Linked DNA regions of Homo sapiens. The protein of the gene in region 2 interacts with the protein of the main gene of each other region in a biochemical or structural test. Each region holds a gene or a part of one and is shown on either strand. Other genes may lie near its edges.

Region 1 (4,284 bases), on a different chromosome or scaffold from region 2:
GGAGAATACTAGTGTGGTGGGGAAAAGTTACCTCCCCATCCACAGTGTGAAGGGGCTTGACCTCTCCCTTCTGAGTAAGGAAGAGAATGGGGTGTGCTTTCAGGGCAGGAGTTCTTTTCCAGATTCTTAGGTCTCCCAAATAACATTCCTAAGCCATGTCTTGCAGCATCATGTGTATCTGAGGAACTGTGATAATTCATGTTTGGTGTTTGTTTTTATGTTACACAGTACAGAAAGTTGTATAAGCTCCTAGAATTGTCAAATGGGAAGAGTCCTAGAGATTCTTATTTCATCAATTCCTTGATTTCTCAGCTGAGAAAACTAAAACCCACAGAGATGAATTGACTTGGCAGAGATAATATTTCTTGCTTATGATTTATAGGAAGCCAAACTTAAAACAAGTCTATAGTTGCTCATTCCTAACAATATTAACCATGCTGTTTACATAATAGTATCTGAAAACTAATTGCCTACTTTAAATGAAAAGAGAAAAGTACGAGTTTGCTCCAAAACATCTCTTAAATTTATAATTAAATGACGTGAGCTAGTTTTATAAAATATTTTATTTACAGTAGAGCTTTACAAAAATAGTCTTAAATTAATACAAATCCCTTTTGCAATATAACTTATATGACTATCTTCTCAAAAACGTGACATTCGATTATAACACATAAACTACATTTATAGTTGTTAAGTCACCTTGTAGTATAAATATGTTTTCATCTTTTTTTTGTAATAAGGTACATACCAATAACAATGAACAATGGACAACAAATCTTATTTTGTTATTCTTCCAATGTAAAATTCATCTCTGGCCAAAACAAAATTAACCAAAGAAAAGTAAAACAATTGTCCCTCTGTTCAACAATACAGTCCTTTTTAATTATTTGAGAGTTTATCTGACAGAGACACAGCATTAAACTGAAAGCACCATGGCATAAAGTCTAGTAACATTATCCTCAAAAGCTTTTTCCAATGTCTTTCCTTCAACTGTTTATTCAGTATTTGGCCAGTACAAATAAAGATTGGTCTCAACTCTCTCTTTCATTAGTCTCAAGTGTTCCTATTATGCACTGAGTTTTCAGACCTTCCCAACTGGCATGTGTTTTAAGTGTGAGTTTCTTTCTTTGGCTTCAAGTGGAGTTTCACAACATTTATGAAACATACTGAGCTCCTCCATGTGGCTGGATCTCTGTGACTCCCCACCCAACAATATTCCCCCGGATGTGACAAGACTCTGCTCCTCCGGTCTCTCTTATCTCTTCATTGCTAAGAACACTATCCCAGATATTGAAGCCTGTGAGTCTCCCAGAGAAGGCTAATGTTTCATCAAAGCCACCACCCACACAGCAGCCATTCTTTTCTTGGCCAATCTGCAGGATTCCTCCCTCAGGAACAATGTGACCTGTGGCCATCTCAACAGTGGTAGCCGCCAGTTCACCATTTACCCACAAGGATGTGAGCCCTTCCTCTGAATTCCAGGTGCCGCACAGGTGGGTCCACCTTCCCAGGGAAACCATGGCTTCAGCAACCAGTTTGTTCTCCTCTCCACCCACCACAAACACTATGGATTGGTAGCTGAGATACAGCTGGATTTCATATGGATTCCTCTTTGTGCCATAGGAAAACAGGATGGTTTTGTTTAATACATCTGTGGCTTTGACCCAAATGCAGGCACTAAAAGACTCAAGCCTCATTGGTCTCACTGGATGCACGCTTCCAAAAATCTTCTTGGAACGCATTGGGAATAAAATAGCTGTTTCACAACCTAGAGTAGCAAGAAAATAAGAAGAATATTAAAGAAAATATAAATTAATTCAGAATTATTCTGGCATTAGTTATTTAACATAAGAATTTTAATTATTACAATTGAAAGCTATGTGAAACCCTACATTACGACTTAAGAAGCTTCCACTGTAATCTCTGCAGAGCAAAGAAAATGAGAAAAAGGAAAGCCAATTGTCTTATCCAATGAAGCATCTAAATGAAGAGAAAGCACGCAAATAGAAGAGCCAACTAGTCCAAACCCACAAAATAATAAAAGCCATAACTACCTCCCCTTCCAATTTGCATATTTTCTTTGTTACTGCTTTTTTTTAAAAAAGTTGAATCACTATCAGTTAACTTCAGACAATAATTCTATAATTTCCAAGAATTCAGAACCCAACCTGGTTCTCTCTTTTTGCCACCACCAAGTTCCTAAAATAATAAACCTGTGAAATTCAGTAGACCTAGTTCGCTCCATTTAGCCTTTACCAACATGCATTTTTCAGCAAAATTCTAGGATAGTGATGTTATTGCAGAATACATTTTTTTTTTTTTTTGAGACAGAGTCTCACTCTGTCACCCAGGCTGGATTGCAGTAGTGCGATCTCGACTCACGGCAACCTTCGCTTCCCAGGTTCAAGCGATTCTCCTGCCTCAGCTTCCGGAGTAGCTGGGACTACAGGTGCACACCACTGCGCCCAGCTAACTATTGTATTTTTTTTTTAGACACGGGGTTTCACCATGTTGGCCAGGTTGGTCTTGAACTCCTGACCTCAAGATCCGCCTGCCTCAGCCTCCCAAAATGCTGGGATTACAGGCATGAGCCACCACACCTGGCCTGCAGAATACATTTTAATACACCAAATGTTCTCAGATATTTGTAAACTTTGCAGAGTTTTTAGAAAACTACCTTTGAAAGGCAACAATGTATAATAATGATGACTAAGCTTATTGGGCATTCACTATGTATCAGATACTGTTCTAATCATTTTGTTTGTCATTTTAATCCTTATGCCAACCATAAGAGATAGTCTTTTACATTCCTATTTTACAGATGAGAAAACTTAGGTAAAAGTAACTTATCTATGTTTACATAGCTGATAAGCAGTAAAACTAGAGTTTGAATTTTTGCAGTCTGGTCACAGAGGCCACGCCCTTAATCAGCACACTACAGTGCCTCTTATTAATAGAACCCCTAGATTTCTCTAGGAGGGCTAGAATCCAGATGGTGTTACTACTAATGAGCCATGCAACTTTGGATGAGCACCATAATTTCCTCTAGGCTTTAGCGTTATCTAAAAAAGGCCCTTCCATTCTGCTCCTAATATTCTGCAAGTCTGTAAGCAGCAAGTATGTAGCACTTAAGAGCTGAATAGACCAAAAATGTGTTTAAAAATTCTACCTTGTCCACATGCTTATAATTACTATTTAAGCAGTAATTGAAAATCTTTAAGAGAAGTACATTCTTTCAAGGGGCCTGGTTGGAGAACATGTTTCTGCTAAAGAGCACTTGGGAGGGGGACTTTCAAATTTGAGGTGGAAAGCTCAGTAAGTTTCCACCATTGTCCATCTCAAGGCGACTTAGCCATTTGGGAAGCTGGAGATGCTGAAACGAAAACCTTTTACGTGTCCCTGGGAAAGAACAGGTGAGCTCTGCATCTATATACATAAATATATATATATGTATGTATACGTATATATACACACATATATACATATGGATATGTATGTATGTATACATACATATATGTATATAAATGTGTGTGTATATATATGTGTGTATGTGTATGTAGGTATTTTTTTAAAAACACCTAAATTAGGGCAGGTATAACAACCTAAAGAAGATATGCCATAAGACAGCTTTGAAAAGCAAACTCCCAGAATGGTTCCAGAATAACTGGTAAAGAGAAAGAACTTGCAGAAACCAAACATCCATGTAAAAGTGTGGTAAACTATGTCAGATTCCTACAAGTGGCTCAGGGGTAGGCTCTATCCTGAAAACATTAAACAAATATGAACCTTATCCTTTAGTGTTAGGGATAGTCAAATAAAATATTGGCATTCAGATAATCATATAAAAGTAACTACAATACTAAAACACAAAACTGGCTCTGTCATGCTTTGATACTTTTTCACTAAATAATTTGAACTTTTGAAGATTTTTTAAAATTAATTTTTAATGAGGCAGTGATTCTATTTTCAAATGAAATTGCTAGGTACATCTTTTCTTCCAGCTGTGTTAATTAAAATCAAATAAAAATCACTGAAAAAAATCACCATATCCATGGGCATTTGATATAGTCTCTATAAAGTTTCAATAAAGTAGTGTTCAATCACACCTGTAATCCCAGCACTTTGGGAGGCTGAGGCGGGTGGATCACAAGGTCAGGAGATCGAGACCATCCTGGCTAACACGGTGAAACCCCGTCTCTACTAAAAATGCAAAAAATTAGCTGGGTAAGGTGGCGAGCACCTGTAGTCCCAGCTACTCAGGAGGCTGAGGCAGGAGAATGGAGT
Region 2 (3,500 bases):
AAATCATTACAAATATAAGTATTTACAGGATTTTAAAGTTAGAATATATTTGAATGCATGGGTAGAAAATATCATATTTTAAAACTATGTATATTTAAATTTAGTAATTTTCTAATCTCTAGAAATCTCTGCTGTTCAAAAGGTGGCAGCACTGAAAGTTGTTTTCCTGTTAGATGGCAAGAGCACAATGCCCAAAATAGAAGATGCAGTTAAGAATAAGGGGCCCTGAATGTCATGAAGGCTTGAGGTCAGCCTACAGATAACAGGATTATTACAAGGATGAATTTCCACTTCAAAAGTCTTTCATTGGCAGATCTTGGTAGCACTTTATATGTTCACCAATGGGAGGTCAATATTTATCTAATTTAAAAGGTATGCTAACCACTGTGGTTTTAATTTCAAAATATTTGTCATTCAAGTCCCTTTACATAAATAGTATTTGGTAATACATTTATAGATGAGAGTTATATGAAAAGGCTAGGTCAACAAAAACAATAGATTCATTTAATTTTCCTGTGGTTGACCTATACGACCAGGATGTAGAAAACTAGAAAGAACTGCCCTTCCTCAGATATACTCTTGGGAGAGAGCATGAATGGTATTCTGAACTATCACCTGATTCAAGGACTTTGCTAGCTAGGTTTTGAGGTCAGGCTTCAGTAACTGTAGTCTTGTGAGCATATTGAGGGCAGAGGAGGACTTAGTTTTTCATATGTGTTTCCTTAGTGCCTAGCAGACTATCTGTTCATAATCAGTTTTCAGTGTGAATTCACTGAATGTTTATAGACAAAAGAAAATACACACTAAAACTAATCTTCATTTTAAAAGGGTAAAACATGACTATACAGAAATTTAAATAGAAATAGTGTATATACATATAAAATACAAGCTATGTTAGGACCAAATGCTCTTTGTCTATGGAGTTATACTTCCATCAAATTACATAGCAATGCTGAATTAGGCAAAACCAACATTTAGTGGTAAATCCATTCCTGGTAGTATAAGTCACCTAAAAAAGACTTCTAGAAATATGTACTTTAATTATTTGTTTTTCTCCTATTTTTAAATTTATTATGCAAATTTTAGAAAATAAAATTTGCTCTAGTTACACACCTTTAGAATTCTAGAATATTAAAACTGTAAGGGGCCTCCATCCCTCTTACTCATTTGTAGTCTAGGAAATTGAGATTTTGATACACCTAAGGTCACGCAGCTGGGTAGATATACAGCTGTCACAAGAGTCTAGATCAGTTAGCACATGCTTTCTACTCTTCGATTATTAGTATTATTAGCTAATGGTCTTTGGCATGTTTTTGTTTTTTATTTCTGTTGAGATATAGCCTTTACATTTGTACACAAATGTGACTATGTCTTGGCAATGCACTTCATACACAATGACTAATCTATACTGTGATGATTTGACTCAAAAGGAGAAAAGAAATTATGTAGTTTTCAATTCTGATTCCTATTCACCTTTTGTTTATGAATGGAAAGCTTTGTGCAAAATATACATATAAGCAGAGTAAGCCTTTTAAAAATGTTCTTTGAAAGATAAAATTAAATACATGAGTTTCTAACAATTAGAAAAGAAAAAATTAAAACATGAAATGATAACAAAAGTAAACAAAAGATACTTTCAAAGCAGTGAACAAAACATTTTGACATAAGCCATAATATAAATTATAATATAAAAAATAAAAACCATAGTATAAATTGTCAGCCTTTGAGTTGGCTACAAATTCAATTTAATGACAGAAGAGAAGGGATGCTGGAGGTAAATTCTTAGGGTTTCTATCTCATAGAGTTTGCTCTTCTGGTTCTCTAGACTGCCAAAGAACATAAAGATGTGCGAGGGGACCTAGCTGTAGTAAAAGCAATCCTATAACAAGAAAAACTCTAAAACAGTGCCCCTTACGATTTTCTACTGAAATTTCTCTAATAGTAGAGGTGTAAAATAAGAAGTTAGAGAATAATGCAAAGGGGGCCCACCACAGACGGAACATTTCTTTTCTCTTAAGACTCATGTGATTTTTGCATCTTACTCCATAATATATTTGTGGTTGCGTTAATATGACAATGTCTGCAATTAAACACCAGTAAGCAAAATTGATACATCAGAATGACTTGCAGGGCTTATCATGCAGTTTGGTTTACATCCCTACTCCACTGCCATTTACTTGAGCGTGAATGAGACACAAAAGATTATTTGCCTCCCATAATCCAACTTTACACATAAATAACACAAGGCTAAAGAAAACCAGAACTCAAATTCACCACGCATAGGAGTGATAACAAAAATATTTAACAGTCAGTATGGGTGATTACTGGCCAATCAGAATACATCACTGATACATCGAAATGGATGCAGGCCACTATGACTAACTTGTGGGTATCATTTCTATGATCACCCTAAAACAGAGTTGGGAAAATATCTATTAACTGGTCTCTCTGGTTTGAATTCTCAATATGTATCTTAATATGAAATAGCTCATTAAAACTTCATGTGTAACTATTTCAGCATTGTTGTCAGCTACTCTTTATTCCACTTCTGTACAGTATTTATTCAACCAAGCTGCTGCTTTCAATGAAGGTCACTTGTTCCTTCAGGGACACATATACTCCCACCTATCCTTTAATTTTGAATGGTTTGTCAGGAAAATTTACTTTCTCTTGAGTTGAAAAACTTGACAGGAAGCAAGAAATAATACAGTCCTAGCCTCTTTCCAATAACATCTGATTTCTCCATTCTCAAACTACACTTCTCAAGGAACCAGATATTTACTCTCATCTGGGAAGATGCCTCTTATGTTTTCCTTTTACTTCCTGGTTATCATGTGGTTGCATTTTCCAAGTTCTTATCATTGAATTTATGAGAGCCTATCAAAATTTATTTTCTTTCATTTATATTCTAATAATTGAAATGTGAGATGAAAATAACATTTCACTTATGAAAAACCCTTCTCTTGATGAATCCTTCCATGTGTTAGTTATCTATTGCTGTGTAACAAATTAAAACTTAATGGCTTGAAACAAATATTTGTTTTCTCATAGTTTATGTGGCTCAGGAGCCTGGGCATGGTTCAGCACAGTGTTTTTGGTCAGAATTCCTCATGAGGCTGCAATCAAGGTGTAGACCAGGGCTGTAGTCATCTATCTCAATATTCAACTCAGAAAGGGATCCACCTTAGATCCTCACTGGCTGTTATCAGGACCTATCACTTCCTAACCACATGGACCTCTCCATAGCACTGCTTACAACATTACAGTCTGTTTCCCACGGAGCAAGAAATCAGAAAGTGTGAGATGAAGTACCCAAAATGGAAGCCACAGGTTTGTTTTTTTATTTTAATATATATAGCCTAGTTTCAAAAGCGATGTTACCTCTGCCTACACTCATGAGGAGGGTATTATACAAGGGCATACATACCAGAAAGCAGGGATCACTGGAAGCCATTTTACAGGCTGCCTGATCCAAGTCATAAACTAGGTGTTTTTAATGT

What was found. Proteins that work in one complex are often made in the same cells at the same time.
Region 1: the proteins of FGF7 (region 2) and PTX3 form a complex in vitro, tested with the Homo sapiens proteins (one study listed by BioGRID).

The regions. Positions count from the first base shown.
Region 1 is NC_000003.12:157,439,850-157,444,133, reverse strand, and holds the end of PTX3 (pentraxin-related protein PTX3 precursor), read right to left. Parts: intron 1,769-4,284; coding exon 1,155-1,768; 3' UTR 501-1,154; downstream 1-500.
Region 2 is NC_000015.10:49,485,742-49,489,241, forward strand, and holds the end of FGF7 (fibroblast growth factor 7 precursor), read left to right. Parts: 3' UTR 1-3,034; downstream 3,035-3,500. UniProt on the Homo sapiens protein: Plays an important role in the regulation of embryonic development, cell proliferation and cell differentiation. Required for normal branching morphogenesis. Growth factor active on keratinocytes.